Regions from separate parts of the Homo sapiens genome. Here region 2 is linked to region 1. The links come from fine-mapping of genetic effects on gene expression. Tissue or cell type: fibroblasts. Region 1 holds a variant in brackets; the other region holds the start of a gene. All regions are shown on one strand. Distances are between the middles of the regions.

Evidence for each region. PIP is the estimated chance that this variant, and not a neighbour inherited with it, causes the effect.
Region 2: it holds the start of RETSAT, and the variant in region 1 is fine-mapped to the expression of RETSAT in fibroblasts (GTEx, PIP 0.99).

What each region holds. Positions count from the first base shown.
Region 1 is chr2:85,466,121-85,474,223 of GRCh38, forward strand. No RefSeq gene overlaps it. Among named protein-coding and RNA genes, the nearest start is that of SH2D6, 51 kb to the left of the region's middle. The variant G/A (reference allele first, on the strand shown) is at 4,865.
Region 2 is chr2:85,350,740-85,358,822 of GRCh38, forward strand. RETSAT (retinol saturase) reads right to left here and starts at 3,789. Exons shown (of 11, transcript NM_017750.4): 1 at 3,597-3,789; 2 at 941-1,123; 3 at 41-282. The coding sequence starts at 3,768. It overlaps ELMOD3 (ELMO domain containing 3), which reads left to right and starts at 4,030. Exons shown (of 14, transcript NM_001135022.2): 1 at 4,030-4,090; 2 at 4,337-4,431; 3 at 4,816-4,859; 4 at 6,228-6,513. The coding sequence starts at 6,460. RefSeq lists enhancers at 3,791-4,292, 3,857-4,256, 4,293-4,792, 4,427-4,486.

The DNA.
Region 1 (8,103 bases):
AATACCTGAGACTGGGTAATTTATAAAGAAAAGAGGTTTAACTGGCTCCTGGTTCTGCAGGCTGTACAAGAAGCATGGCAGCTTCTGCTTGCCTTCTGGGGAGGTCTCAGGGAGCTTTCAGTCATGGTGGAAGGCGAAGGGGAAGCAGGCATTTTACATTTTACATGGTGGGAGCAAGAGGAAGAGAGAGAAGGGGAAAGGTGCCACAAACTTTTAAACAACCAGATCTCATGATAACTCACTCACTGACTATCACAAGAAGAGCTCTGAGGGAATGGTTCCAAACCATTCATGAGAATTTTGCCCCTATAATCCAATCACCTCCCTCCAGGCCCTACCTCCAACACTGGGAATTACAATTTGACATGGGATTTGTTGGAGACACAGATCCAAATCATATCACTGTACTTCTATCATTTTCATCTTTCATCATCTATACATTCTTTGAAATCATAAAGTATTTACTGGATTCTCTTTTCCACAAAGTAATCCTTATTCTGATGTATGTTTTTCATTTGCTTTTTGCTTATGTGTCTTAGTCCATTTTGTGCTGCTATAAAAGAATACCTAAGACTGGGTAATTTATACAAAGCAAGAAGTTATTGGCTCCTGGTTCTAGTCCAAGAGCATGGTGCTGGCATCTGCTAAGAATTTGATGAGAGTCTTCTTATGGCATCATCCCATGGCAGAAGGTGGAAGGGCAAGAGAGAGCAAGAGAGAGTCGTCAGGAAGGGAACCTAACTTGTCCTTTTATAAGTAGCATATTCCTGAGATAATAGCATTAATTTATTCATGAGAACAGAGCCCTCATGACCTACTCACTTCTTAAAAATCCCACCTCTCAACACTGTTGCATTGGGAATCAAGATCCCAGTACATGAACTTTGGGGGACACATTTAAACTATAGCAGGTGGGGACCACTTATGATCTAGGAGCAAAGTGAAGGAAGGGGCAAAGTGAATGGAAGTTTCACCATTCAGGGAACAAATTTACTTTTTTCCCTGCCATGGTTAACATTTGGTATTTAGCCTTCCAGACAGATACATACATATTTTTTCCTCACAAAATGAGATTACCATATACATGCTATTTTTTTTTTTTTTTTGAGACAGAGTCTCACTCTGTTGCCCAGCCTGGAGTGCAGTGGCACCATCTCGGCTCACTGCAATCTGCGCCTCCCAGGTTCAAGCAATTCTCATGTCTCAGTCTTCTGAGCAGCTGGGATTGCAGGCACACACCACCACACCCAGCTAATTCTTGTATTTTTAGTAGAGATGGGGTTTTGCCATGTTGGCCAGGCTGGTCTCTACCTCCTGACCTCAAGCGATTCACCTGCCTCAGCTTCCCAAAGTGCTGGGATTACAGGCGTGAGTCAGAGTGCCTGGTCTGACATGCTATTTTGTAATCTGCTTTCTTCATGTCATACATGCCATGCATGTTTTTATGTCATCAAATATACTACTCTCACATTATTTAAGTAGCATTCCATTGGCACAATATATCACATTTTGTTTAATCCGATCCCCTATTCATGGACATTTCTGTTGTTTACAGTAATTTATCATTGGAGTCAAACTGCTGCACAATTTTCATTTTCATTTTAATTTTTTTGAGACAGAGTCTCACTCTGTTGCCCAGACTGGAGTGCAGTGGTGCGACCTTGGTTCACCGCAACCTCTGCCTCCCAGGCTCAAGCCATTCTCCTGCCTCAGCCTCCCAAGTAGCTGGGACCACCGGCATGTGGCACCACGCCCAGCTAATTTTTGTATTTTTAGTAGAGATGGGGTTGTACTGTTGGTCAGGCTGGTCTCGAACTCCTGACCTCAAGTGATCTGCACACCTAGGCCTCCCAAAGTGCTGGAATTACAGGCTTGAGCCACCGTGCCCAGCCAGACCTCCTCTTAATCCCTGTGTTTCTAATTCCACATAATTTACTGGCCCCCTTAAGGTCTGTGTCCCCAAGTCAAGAGCCTTTCGGATTTAGTTCCTTCGAGGCCCGAATCCCCAGTTTCCTGCTCAGGCTGGTGGTCACCCTGGCTTTAAGGAGGGGAGGAAGGGGCCTATGATCTAGCAATTCAATATTCAGCTGTTTCCACCCCCACCTTACACACAGTCTCTGGTGCCTTCATGGAGTCTGCAGACGTGTCAAACCATATCTTCCTGCGCTTTGCTACCTTAGTTGCTTCTCTCAGCTACTGATGTTTCCTGACTCACGTGGGTGACGGTGAGGATAGGCCCTTTCTATTCCTTCACTGGCCTTTCAGTAGGGTTTTGGGTGGGGGAGGATAAAAATACCACCTCGTTTAACTGGAAGTTGCATTAATTATACAAAGGTCTTTCTGATCATTGCTCATCTTTGAAAGAGACCAGTTATTGGTTAAAAATTAATCTAGAGAAAGATGAGGCAAGTGACCTGGAACAGACCACAGTTTTCAGCTGACTTTTTTTTTCAAACAACCTATCACCAAATGTGTTTTCTCCTCTGTCTTGGGCCATATCCCTTCTTTTCAGGATGTAGGAGGGCAGTGTAGCAACAGACTCTAAGATAGACTTTCTAATGATTGCTGTTCCCTCAGGCCCTCTCCTCTGGCTCCCTCTCCAGCAGCAGTTTTCTCAGCTGGGAGGCTGAGACATAGATGGTTAACATGGATCTACACATAACTTCTCTGTTAGTTCCACCTCTCCCACTCCCTGCAGCCTGCAGGGTGGAGCTGACTTCTCTGGAGTCATTCCAGCTGCTTGCCTTTTGTGGTTCTAAACAATGGATCGTTAAGTTGGGCCTTCCAGAGCAGTGCCCTTATCTATACGTGGCAGTTTGGAATTGTGCCGCCACCTAGCCTTTGAAGCTAAAGACAGGTACAGGAATGTTCAGCACTGTCTGTAATAGCAAAAAGCTGAAAACATGCAAATGACTGTCACCAGGAGGATGAGTAAATACGTCACATACTCATATCATCGAACACAATTCTTCAGTGAAAATGAGTGAAACTATCACTGCACATGGTAGTAGTTGGGTGTGTGTGTATGTGTGTGTGTGGGGGGGGCAGAGTCTCACTCTGTCCTCCAGGCTGGAGTGCAGTGACGCAATCTCGGCTCACTGTAACAATCGATTCTCCTGCATCAGCCTCCCGAGTAGCTGCGATAACAAGTGCACGCCACCATGCCCGGCTAATTTTTGTATTTTTGGTAGAGATGGAATTTCACCACATTGGCCAGGCTGGTCTTGAACTCCTGATGTCAAGTGATCTGCCTGCCTCGGCCTCTCAAAGTGCTGGGATTACAGGCAGCGTGCCATCACACCCGGCCGCAGTTGAGTCTTAAAAACACAGTTAAGTGAAAAAAGTTAGTCACAGAAGACTATATACTTGACTGAATGATTTCATTTATATAAAATGCAAAAGTTCCCTGGAACTGAAACATATTGTGTGGGAAAATATACACGAAGAATAACACTCAGGAAAAGAAGGGAATTATTATTAAGTCAAATTCAGGATGGTGGTTATCACAGGAGGGAGAGGAAGAGGTGACTGAGGAGGGGCACAAAGCAGTCTTCAAAGTCACCAGTTAAATTCCATTTTCTTTTATTTTGAGACAGGGTGTTGCTATGTTGCTCAAGCTGGCCTTGAACTCCCAGACTTAAGGGATCCTCCCACCTCAGCCTCCCAAGTAGCTGGAACTACAGGAGCACACCACCAAGCCCGGCTTCTATTTTCTTAAAGCTGGTTAATAGGTACATGTTTTCATTTTTGTTATTAGTGAAACTACATACATGTTAAGTATATTCTTTTGTTGGAACAATATTTCAAACTAATAACTGGAGTGATTACTCTCTTTTTTCCTCATCTTTTAAAAGATGGAGTTGTTTCTCTTTTTCATTTTTGGAGAGTTTTAAGGTGAGGAGAAGAGTAAAAAATAAACTACTTTTTTTTTTTTTGAGACAGTGTTTTGTTCTGTCGCCCAAGCTAGAGTGCAGTGGTGTCATCTCAGCTCACTGCAACCTCTGCTTCTCGGGTTCAAGTGATTCTCGTGCCTCAGCCTCCCAGGTAGCTGGGATTATAGGCTCCTGCCACCACGCCCAGCTGATTTTTGTATTTTTAGTAGAGACGGGGTTTCACCATGTTGGCCAGGCTGGTCTTGAACTCCTGACTTCAAGTGATCTGCCCACCTCAGACTCCCAAAGGGCAGGGATTACAGTTGTGAGCCACTGTGCCCGGCATTTTTTGGTTTGCTTGTTTGTTTTTGAAATGGAGTTTTGCTCTTGTCACCCAGGCTGGAGTGCGGTGGCCATGATCTTGGCTCACTGCAACCTCCACGTCCCGGGTTCAAGCGATTCTCCTATCTCAGACTCCCAAGGAGCTGGGATTACAGGTGCCTGCCACCATGCCCGGCTAATTTTTGTATCGTTAGTAGAGACAGGGTTTTGCCATGTTGGCCAGGCTGGTCTCGAACTCCTGATCTCAGGTGATCCGCCCATCTTGGCCTCCCAAAGTGCTGGAATCACAGGTGTGAGCCACCGTGCCCGGCCAAAAAATACTTTTATCACTCCCTCGCTGCAGCTGTCTATGACTTTCTCCAGGGGGTAAATAATTCACATACACAGCCTGTGAAGGCACTGGCATTATGGACCTTGGGTTTCCAAATAACACTGAAGAAAGCGAGTCCATGGAAAACTGATAATCAAGAAGCTTTATTACTTCCAGGATTGCTTATTTTTAAAACCCCTGAAAGGAAAATGGCTTTAATTCAGAAACTGGCTTGTGGAGTGGTGGTGGGGCAGCGGCGAGGCAGGGTTGATACAACGGCAACTGGAGGAAGAAGTTACTGTGAGGGGAGGCCCACCCGCATCCGGTGCCCCAGTGGACT[G/A]GTGCCACCTCAGCTGGCATGACACCTGCTAGAGCTGTGGGTATTTCTCCTATTCAGGAGCTCTGGGTCTGTTGATGCCCGCATATGTGAATTGGGCCCCAGGGCTCTATGCCACGGCCTGGAAGAGGCTTCATGTCAGAACTTGATGGATGGGGGTGGGATGGGGGTGGGAGGGAGGTGGGGCAGGCACTATGCCAGGAAAGGTCAACAGAGTCTTGTTGTGCCTGGGAGGGAATTTGGACTTTATCCTGAGACAAATGAGGAACTGTTAAAGGGTTTCAGCCAGGAAAAGGCAGGATAATTTTTTTTTTTTTCTGATAGAGTCTTGCTCGGTCACCCAGGCTGAAGTGCAGTGGTGCAATCGTAGCTCACTGCAGCCTCTGCCTCCTGGGCTCAAGTGATCCTCCAGCCTCAGCTTCTCGAATAGCTGGGACCACAGGTGCATGCCCCCACGTCTGGTTTATTTTTTATTAATATTGTTTTGTAAAGATAGGGTCTCACTGAGTGCCCAGTCTAGTCTCAAACTCCTGGTCTCAAGCAATCCTCCTGCTTCTACCTCCCACAGTACTGGGATTACAGGTATGAGCCACTGCAGCCTGCCCAGGATAAGATTTGACTGAGAAAATACATAATGAAAAAATGCTGGGCACAGTAAAACTTCAGTGACTCATTTAAAGGAAGCTATACTGTATTCATCCCATCAGCAGCTACATAGATTATGACAATGTCCATATGTAGGCAAAAGATATTTTCATTCTACAGACAATACTTAGGACATGTAAGGATTTAGGAACATTTGGCAAAGACTCTGTGCCCTAACCCCCCACTCCCCTAGGACTCAAGACTTACGGGTTAGGCATTGCTGATCCAGTTAATGGCAATGCTAAATTGTTCTTTTTTTTTTTTTTTTTTTTTGAGATGGAGTTTCGCTCTTGTCATCCACCCAGGCTGGAGTGCAGTGGCGCGATCTTGGCTCACTGCAACCTCCACCTCCCGGGTTCAAGCAATTCTCCTGCCTCAGTCTCCGGAGTAGCTGGGATTACAGATGCCTGCCACCACGCCTAGCTAATTTTTTGTATTTTCACCATGTTGGCCAGGCTGGTCTCGAACTTGTGACCTCATGTGATCCACTCTCCTCAGCCTCCCAGAGTGCTGGAATTACAGGTGTGAGCCAGTACCCCCAGCCTGAACTGCTCTTTTTGACAGCAATAAACAAGTTCAGCTTCATCCTTCCTTAGGTTGGTAAGACCGTGTCTCCAACATCAAGGGAAAGCATGCCTTCCTATTTGTTATAAGGGACCCACAACCAAGTTGCCATTTAAATATATGTGAAAAACAAAAGAGGATCTAATACCCAACATGCATTTATACTATTTAGGACTGTTAGCAAGACTCTATTGCCCATGTGATTTTATAAATAGTATTATGACAACAGTTTTGAATGTGTCTGACTGCACATTGACTCATTTAATCCTCACAACGTCTGCTGGGGTAGGTGCTGTTATTGCAGTTGGCATAAACTACAATTAATTATGTAATTTCTTGTTGAATATTCATGTTCTGTGATCAGTTCCATGAGAGCGGGAAGCTCGTCTTGTTTATCCTTGTATCCCTGGTGCCTACAACAGGGCCTGGTATGTGGCAAGCATTCAAAACGTATTTACTGAATAAATTTCGTATTCCCCTTTACAAGTGAGGACAGAAAGGCTTAGAGATGTTAAATAGCTTACCAACCTTTAGGTCACCAGCTAATCCAAACTCACATCTGTTGAACTTTATCTTCTTACCAGCTCTCAAGTAGTCTAAGGTTTTATAAAGATCACATAGCTTGGTCGAGTTCCTAGCTATTAAGTAGAAAGTTATTGAGAGATTAACAAACACTTTTTTAAAGATTCTTCCTTTGTTTTTAACCATTCTGAAAACATAAAACAGAATTCAGAGGAGAGCAGTAGTGGAATGGTTATGTTTAAACTTGCCATGTTTCATAAAGACATTACATTGAGAAATTCACACCTGGCATTTGAGAACAAAAGCTGGCGTAGAACTTGGAGGAAGTATTATTAGGAATTCACCCAACTAAATCTTCCTAAGCTTATTATCTATAAAGCTCATGTTTTATTAAAATATAGCTCATATGGCTTTATAGCTCTTTCTCCTCAACTGAAATCTTTGGTGGGGTGGGGGGCGGCCTCCAGTTTTCATAGGCCACCTGGTATTGATCATTCTTACCTTACTTGGTTAAAACAGTTGGCCAAGGAAGCCTAGGTCCTGATCCCAGCCCCTTCACCATACCCAGCCCTGCCTCGGTACAAATTTCCTTACAAAATGCCCAATACTCCAAGGCCTCTGGAAGAAGCATGGGAAACTAAGATTACTGTTTTCCATAGGAAAGGTATTGAAGTAACTTTCACAAGCTACCTATGGTAAAAGAGGGAATATAAAGATTTGGAGAAAGGGCTCTAGTGGGAGTAAGTGACAAGTCCTGGCCTATTCCCATTCCATCCCATTTCTAGGCAGGAGTCTAGCCAAGCTGCCAATCGGGCCCCCGCCAGACAAGACAAGAGCAACTGATGTGTGAACATGCAGGTGTTACCCTGCCCAAGAGATGAGCCCAGACCTTGTCTTGTCTCTGGGTTCCATCACCCCGAGTGTGAAGAGAATGGGGAACTCCAAGAAACCAGCCTGAGACTTCATACCTTCTCTCTCACTGCAATGTGGGCAGAGGCCCATGTGCAAAGGTCTCAGGAACTTGAATTCCCTGTAGTTTTAGTAACTAATGTTGGTATAGATTTTGATGGTACAACATTTTTTCACATGCATCTTTCCACTGAGGTTGATATACAAATATTACCGTCCCCAAATTAGAGATGAACAAAGAGATTTCATTACTTGTCTAAAGCTGTATCACTCCCTGCATATCCAGCCTCCTGGTGGACTACTGTTCAGTCATGAGTTTGGGTTTTCTCCCTCTTCAAATCAATCATCTGTGACTTTTACATCACTAGTGCTCAATCTTTGGTGGACGCTACGTAGAGAATCTAAGCAACACTTTGGGTTGTCTTTCCAGAAAAAAAGCACATCTATACACACACACACACACACACACACACACACACACACACATCTGTTAGCTCTCAGGACTTTTGGTGATCCCCTGGCGACCATGGACACAGGGCTGAGAATTCTTCTTTTATAAATAATGTATGTGAGACCAAAGGGACATAATAACCAAGCACAAT
Region 2 (8,083 bases), 120 kb before region 1:
ATCGAGAACAAACTCTGGGTCCTCAGCATGTCCATGTTACCTTAACCAGCTTTATATACTTGTCAATGATAGCTTCCTCCTGTGGAAACTTCTCCTTGAGGCCCTGAATGTAGGCTTTCTCTCCACTGTACATGGGGTACTCCTTTCGGCCATTGGGCCCTTCCAGTACCATGATGTCAAAAGGAGAGGACAGGGGAGCCCAGTCCAGCTGCCCTTCAGTGATCTGGTCCAAGATAAAACGGCCAATGCTGCCCTCTTCCATACGCCCAATGTAATGGATTCCTGTTGGGAGATGGAAAAACAAGGTAGTAAAGGGATATGGGGATTGAGCCCTGGAAAGGTGGCTGAGGAAGTGAGGTGGAAGAGTTTATCTGGCCTGGCCAAGTTCACGCCCAGAGTGAGCTGCTCACTCTGTCTGTAGGGAGGTGTCACAGCAGAAACCGCCAGATCGCTGCCCGATTCAACTCCCAGTAGCTATGCTGTCACATAAGAAAACTGCCCAGAGGCTGGGCACGGTGGCTCACACCCATAATCCCAACACTTTGGGAGGCAGAGGGAGGTGGATCACTTGAGGTCAGGAGTTCGAGACCAGCCTGGACAACATGGAGAAACCCCATCTCTACTAAAATACAAAAAAATTAGCGGGGTGTGGTGGCCCACTTGGTGGGATTACTGAGTGTAATCCCAGCCACTCGGGAGACTGAGGCATGAGAATCACGAACTCAGGAGGCAGAGGTTACAGTAAGCTGGGATCACACCACTGCGCTCCAGCCTGGGTGATGAAGTGAGACTCTGTCTGAAACAAACAAAGAAAAAAAGTACCCAGAGAGAAGATGGCACTTCCAAAACAACAGAAATGCTCAGTATCACCCCACAAGGGCTGCTCCAAGCCTCTTCAACATACAGCCATGCTCCCAACCCTTTTCCACACAAGCCTTACCTGTGTCAAATTCAAGGCCATTCTTTCCAAAGGTATGACAGCAGCCCCCTGCCTTGGTATGTTGTTCCAGCACCAGGACTCGCTTGCCAGCTTTAGCTAGAATTGCAGCTGCAGCCAGGCCCCCAAAGCCACTGCCAATTACCACCACATCCAGCTTCTCCGGCACTTGGTTGGCTGAAAAAGCTACAGCAGAAGGGCCAAAGGGTGGGTTTCTCAGGCAGGGGCAGGGAAATAGCAAAGATAGGGAAACCAAAGAAGACTTCTCTAGCTTGTACAGTGCAAGAAACCTCTAGAGTGGTTTGGCACAGAACTCTTGACTAACATGTTTCAAACATTTTACCTGGGAATACTCAGAACCAGCCAGGCAGATTTGGGGTTTTGCTTATTTGTTTTTTGAGACAAGGTCTCACTATGGCCCAGGATGAAGTGCAGTGATGTGATCACAGCTCACTGCAGCCTTGAACTCCTGGCCTCAAGCAATCCTCCTGCCTCTGGTTCCCGAGTAGCTGGGACTACAGGTGCATGCCACCATGCCGGGCCATTTTATTTTTATTTTTATTTTTATGTGTTTAATTATTTTTTAAGACGGAGTCTCACTCTGTCACCCAGGCTGGAGTGCAGTGGCGCAATCTCCGCTTACTGCAAGCTCCGCCTCCTGGGTTCACATCATTCTCCTGCTTCAGCCTCCCGAGTAGCTGGGACTACAGGTGCCCACCACCACGCCCGGCTAATTTTTTTTTTTAATATTTTTTAGTAGAGATGGGGTTTCACCATGTTAGCCAGGATGGTCTCGATCTCCTGACCTCGTGATCCGCCTGCCTCGGCCTCCCAAAGTGCTGGGATTACATGCATGAGCCACCGCGCCCCGCCTATTTTATGTTTTATAGAGCCAAAGTCTTGCTATGTTGCCCAGGCTGATCTTGAACTCCTGGCCTCAAGTGATCCACCCACCTCGGCCTCCCAAATTGCTGGGATTACAGGCATGAGCCAACACACCAGCCCACAAGCCGGGTTTCTTTGGAAGATGCAGGGTCTGCAAGCAATAGTGGAATAGCTGGGTCTTATGGTGGCTCTTCCAGGTCCTGATGAAAAGGCTTGGGCAGGACAGAACTGCTCAGAGGCTGCAGCTCTGAGAAATCACAGCACCAGCCCCTCCCATAGGGAAGGTCTGGGGGCAGTGCTGAGGGAGGCAGCACCTTCTCAGAAGACAAAACTGGATAGCAAGTGGTGCTATATGGGTACTTCCGACACAAGATCTGTTCTTTAACAATCACTGGCAAAGAACTGAGATCTGGGATGTTTCAAGATACAAGAGAACTTGGCAAACTGCTTATTTTTTTAATGTTTTTAGAGAGATCAATAGTAAAAAAAAATTTCACATGTAAGTATATAAGATAAATACATGAAACAAGTGTCACAATGCAATACTTAGTGGAACTATGTATAATGCACTCTGATATTTTCTATTCTACTGCATTCTAAAATACTAGTTGTGGCCAGGCGTGATGGCTCACGCCTGTAATCCCAACACTTTGGGAGGCCGAGGTGGGCGGATCGCTTGAGGCCAGGAGTTCGAGAGCCTTGACAACATGGTGAAACCCTGTCTCTACTAAAAATACAAAAATTAGCTGGGCATGCCCACTACTCGGGAGGCTGAGGCAGGATAATCACTTGAACCCAGGAGGCGGAAGTTGCGGTGAGCGGAGATCGCGCCACTGCACTCTAGCATGGACAATAGAGCGAGACTCTGTTTCAATAAATAAATAAATAATGCCAGTTGCAACTCACTAAATTGATTTCATAGCCCACTAATAGATCACAATCCGGTTTGAAAAGCAGTTAAGCTAGTCATCTCATTTTTAGACCAGCCCAGGTAGGTGCTAATGGTTATGCAGCAAATTAGTGACAGAGTCCAAGCTAAAACTCAGTTCTCAGAAGTCCAGATGATTAGTCCTTCCACTTAGAACAGTACTGTCTCCGATTGTGTAGCAAGATATGACACGGAGAATTCTAAAATTTACAAGTGAGAGGGACTCCGTAGATCAAACAGGTGATCCATTATTTTTTAAAGCAGCAGAACTCTTTAAACTCTAGAAGCAACCACAAAATATGTTTTAAAGATGAGAGTGGAGAGCAGGCTCTGAGCCTGAGGCGCCTTGTTGAACCTCTGCCAATGTTTCAGAACTAGGGTTCAATCCTTACGATTTGGGACCATGCAAAGCCTGTTAAATCACCGGACGGGCAAAACGCAATTTCCTACGCATTTCTGTGCTGCTCCCCCACACCCCTGAGCTCGCATGGGAGGGTAGGTGAAAAAGTTAAGGTCCTGGAACCAAGTGGAGGAATGAGTCACGGGGATTATCAGTTCCACGAGCCACGGGGATTACAAGTGGCAGGGCGGGTGCCAACACCTTGCAAACCAAGGACAATGACCACACCCTTGGGACTACTATTCCCGGGGCCTACTAGGGCAAAGGCTATCGACAGTGTTGCACACTAAAGCGGGGCTCCTCCACGTGCAAGGAAGCCCTCCTAGTACTTTACATATGGGGAAACTAAGGCCCACGTCTGGTAGCGGCTGCCTTGGCAAAATGAGAACCCAAATCTGTGAGAAAGCCTCGAGTGCAGCCCCGGACCCCAGGGTCCCTCCTGCTACCTTGTTTGAGAACCTTCTTCCTGGCCTCCTTGTCAGTTACCAGGGGCGCTGGGGGCCGTTTGACATCTTCGGAGAAAGGATTCGGGGAGCTGCCAGAGAATAGTCCCAAGTAAACTTTGCAGAGGACGGCCAGCAGCAGCACAGCCAGGAGCAGCACCAGCGGAAGCCACATCACGCCGGCGTCGGGTCGGGTAAATGGGACAGCTCCGACTGCGCTCAGCCTCTAGGACTGTGGCTCCGCCCGGGCTAGTTCGCTCTCCAGTCAGGAGGCGGAGGCAGCTTTGAGCACTGATTAACCAGCCAGCCAGCGAAGAGCCAACTCTCAGGTGATGATTGACCCTCCCGGCTCTCCGTACTTCTTTTGGGTTTCCATTGCCTACTGGGAAATGTAGTTCTCGGGGCCAGGGGAGCCGGCACGGAAGCGGCTGTGCGCATGAGCAGATGAGGCCTAGCCGAGGCGGCGGGACCCCCAAGTTTGGAAAGCTCTTTTAACGGTGAGAACGCGTTAACACTTGCCAAGGGGAGTGGTTGGTGCCTGTGCGGAGCTAGCAGCCGGCCTGAGGAGGGAGGGAGAATGTGATCCGGTGGAAATTATCACTATGGGGCGAGACAAGGCCGAGAGTTGTAAGACTGAAAGAGAATCCCGACTGGGAGACAGGAGTCCTGAGTTCTGGTCCTGGCTCTGCCCTGGACTCGCTGCCTTGAGGTGTTAAATTGCTTTCCTCGTCTTACGCCTCCAGGCTATGCGAAAGTTCTGTCCAAAGGCTGCTCACAGCCCCTGTCTGACTGGTTGTCATGATGAATTGAGCTCTCTGTTACCTGCGCATCACAACCGGTGAGCGTCTGTCTCTGTGCCCCTCAAAGTGGCCCATAGTTTTGTCCTGGGGGCCCGCCTGGGACGGAGTCCTCTATGGCGGGTCCCTAATGACACCCCATCCGTGGGGAACCTGGGGGACGGGGAGCCGCCCATGGACAAGCATGGTGAAAGGATCAGCTAAGGGCCCATCTAATTTAAATTCCTATGCAGAGAATCTAACCTCCAGCAAGCAGTTGAAGAATCATACCCCCTCCTTGCCTAAAGAGGGTGCATAATGAATACTTGATTGGAGAAGGATCCATTTTTACAGGAAGGCCGTTTCCTTAGGTCCAACTATCAGGAATTTGCCTTTGAGTACTTCCTTGTTTAATGGAATTGTTGCTCTTTTCTTCTCTGCTACAGATAGTAACTGTCCCTACTGAAGGCCCCAGGAGTGCTCCAGCCAGGTGTGGAAAGCTGGTCACGATTCTATGCTACTTGGTTCATTTTCTACACAGCAACAGAAGAGCCCTCCTGAGATTGCTATTACCATACCCGCCTGTCACCTTGCCAAGGCTGGCCAATGTGTGTTTTGTCATAGGCTGTCATGGAGGCCATGATGGAGGAAAAGGAAAGGGGAGGCAGATGTTGAGGCCCCAGAGGCCACAGTGAGAGCAGTTTAGTTCCTGGGGTGCCAGGACTAAGGGGGCATTGCCCTGTCCCCCGGATTACAGTGAGCCACATGTCAAGCCCAAGAGCCAGGAGGTATTCTTCCTCTCAGTGTTAATAATCAAAGCATCCTGACACCAGCAGCCAGTTTTTATGGCATCCTGGAGGGCTGACCTCATAGAGAGGCTACCCTCCTTCCTTAGTCACCCAAAGTTGTGAACTATGATTGTCAGTTGTGTGTGGGCCATCTGCCCACTTAGGATGCAATTTTTGATGTGACAGACATTCCGGATGTCCAATTCCCCTGTGATGAGGTATGAGCCTTGTCCAGCCCTTTTCCTGAGGGAAGCAATGTCAGATGAAAGACTTAGAATTGCCCAAACTGGCTAGCCAGCTGCCACATGCACAGTATTGCTGATAACTGAGAAAGGTTAGAACATCGTGTTGCATTTTGAATTTCTACCATTGTTGGAACCAGGTCTAGTATTATAAGCCCCTGACCCAGCCTGTGTGTGAGGCCTAAACAAAGCCTGAGCACTTCAGCTAAGACCACCCACCAAGGTGACACCTTTAGCCTCACGCCTTTGATAAGCTGGCCCAGGTCCCAGTAACTCCATTGTCAGAAACAGACCCCATCCCTTCTAGTGGTGCTGCTGCCTTTTGGACACAGAATCCAGCTCACAGTCCCCTGTGTGGTCCCCTTTTGGCCATCCTGTGGCTTGGGTAGTAAGAGGTAAGCATTTGGCTGAGGCAAGTTGTTCATTCAGAATAAATTCACAGCTGCTTAAATTTTGTCAACAGGCCGAGCGTGTTGGCTCATGCCTGTAATCCCAGCACTTTGGAAGGCCGAGGCAGGCGGATCACGAGGTCAGGAGTTCAAGACCAGCCTAACCAACATAGTGAAACCCCATCTCTACTAAAAATACAAAAATTAGCAGGGTGTGGTGGCGCACGCCTGTAATTCCAGCTACTCGGGAGACTGGGACAGGAGAATCGCTTGAACCCGGGAGGCGGAGGTTGCAGTGAGCCGAGATCGCACGGCTGCACTCCAGCCTGGGCAACAGGGCAAGACTCCAACTCAAAAAAAAAAAAAAATTGTCAACAGAGGCATAACTGAATGGTGAAACCAGTTTTCTTTTTCAATTTCTTTTTTTTCTTTTGTGCAGAGCTGAGGCTTCGAAGACCTCAGAGGACTTCTCTCAGCACTCACAGAAACCTCCTACACCCTCGGATGGCACAAAGGGACTGTTTTCTTACTCTTAGTCTGAGTGACTGCCAAGGAAGGCAAAGGTAGAGCAACTGGATCTCTGGCTCTCCACATAGCTTCTGATCTCAGACCTTACTAAAATGCTTTCTGGGCCCAAGGACAAAGCTCACATGAACAAATGATTTTGAGTCATGAATGAAAAATCTTGCTCTTTCCATAGTAAAGAAGAATTAAGAGATGGACAGGTAAGCATGCACTCTTATTTGGGAAAGGTGGTGTTGGTTTGAGATATATCATTAAGTATAGTAAGAATATATTAAGAGAATATTTGGAAAAATTTAGAAACCCTCATTATAGTTCTCTTTGTTCTGTAAGAAGGAGCTTCTATTCACCTCAGGGTCAATTGCTTTTCCTAATAGCTTGTTTTGTAAGTGAGTTATGAGATTTTTGTTTTCTTTTTGCTTGGGTAGTGGGGAGAATTTCATTGAGGAATCACCCAAGAAATCTGTATTTCATTGATTTGGATCATTACCTTACTAGCCTCTTCCCTGTGAAACGCTTGCTTTGGCCTGATCATCCTCAGGACTCAGTTCAATGTGATATGTCTTTGTATGAGCCGGGCAGCTAACCCTACATGCCTTACCTTTCACACTACTTTGCCCACCCAAAAATGGTCTTAAATGGAGGCTGTGGGATTCAGTGGCCAGACTGGGACAAAGCCTTTGCTTTGGGTCTCCAGAAAGATTTTCTTCACTGTAGTAATATGCGAACTGTTCCAAAGAGGGAAGTCTTTGGACACTGGAGGGGACTGAATTGGAGAAGGAAAGGAAGGATGAAATGAATCTCAGGTACACAGATGCCTGCAGGAAGTTGTTCAGCACAATGAATCACCAAATATTTTAGAGATAAAATTTCAACAAAAATTTGAGAAATATATTTTGTGCTTAGTACTGTGCCAATGGTTGTGAAACATATAAAAGAAATATAAGAGCCTGGAGGCAGTGGCTCACGCCTGTAATCCCAACACTTTGGGAGGCTGAGGTGGGCAGATCACTTGAGGTCGGGAGTTGGAGACCAGCCTGGCTAACATGATGAAACCCTGTCTTTACTAAAAATACAAAATTATCTGGGCATGGTGGTGCATGCCTGTAATCCCAGCTACTCAGGAAGCTGAGGCAAGAGAATCGCTTGAACCCAGGAGGCGGAGGTTGCAGTGAGCTGGGATCACACCATTGCACTCCAGCCTGGGTGACCAAGTGAGACTCTGTCTCCAAAAAAAAAAAAAAAAAAAATGAAAAAAGAAATATAAGAGAAGGTCCTTATGCAGGCCTTTTGCAGAGGAACTTTTGCTGCATACAAGGGTTACTGGACTTAGAGGTGTGAGACAGCATTGTAGCCCCAGCTAGTAAGGTAGGTTGCCTTGAGTAGGTGGAACTGACCTTGATCAGAGAAGAGAGTGGAGGTGTATTCTGGAGGAAAACTACATGAACAAAGGGATGGAAGTGAGGAGAGGGATCTGCAGCAGGTGTGTTGATTGCATTACAGTGGGAAATAAATGCTTAGCCATCATGAGCTCCTTTACCAGGGAGCTTGGTCAGCTGTGAGGTGTTTTGGCCTCCATCCTTGCATCTGGAACATGAAGAAATGAAAGTTGTGTTTAATGAGCATTAGTTGGAAAGGCAAAAAAAAAAAGCAGAAGGATTAGAGTAACAGGATGATCTGGGATTCCAGGGCCTTGGCATAATACATTCACATGGTTCAAAATGCAAAAAGTACAGAACGATATATGTATTGTGAAGAAACCACCTTCCACCC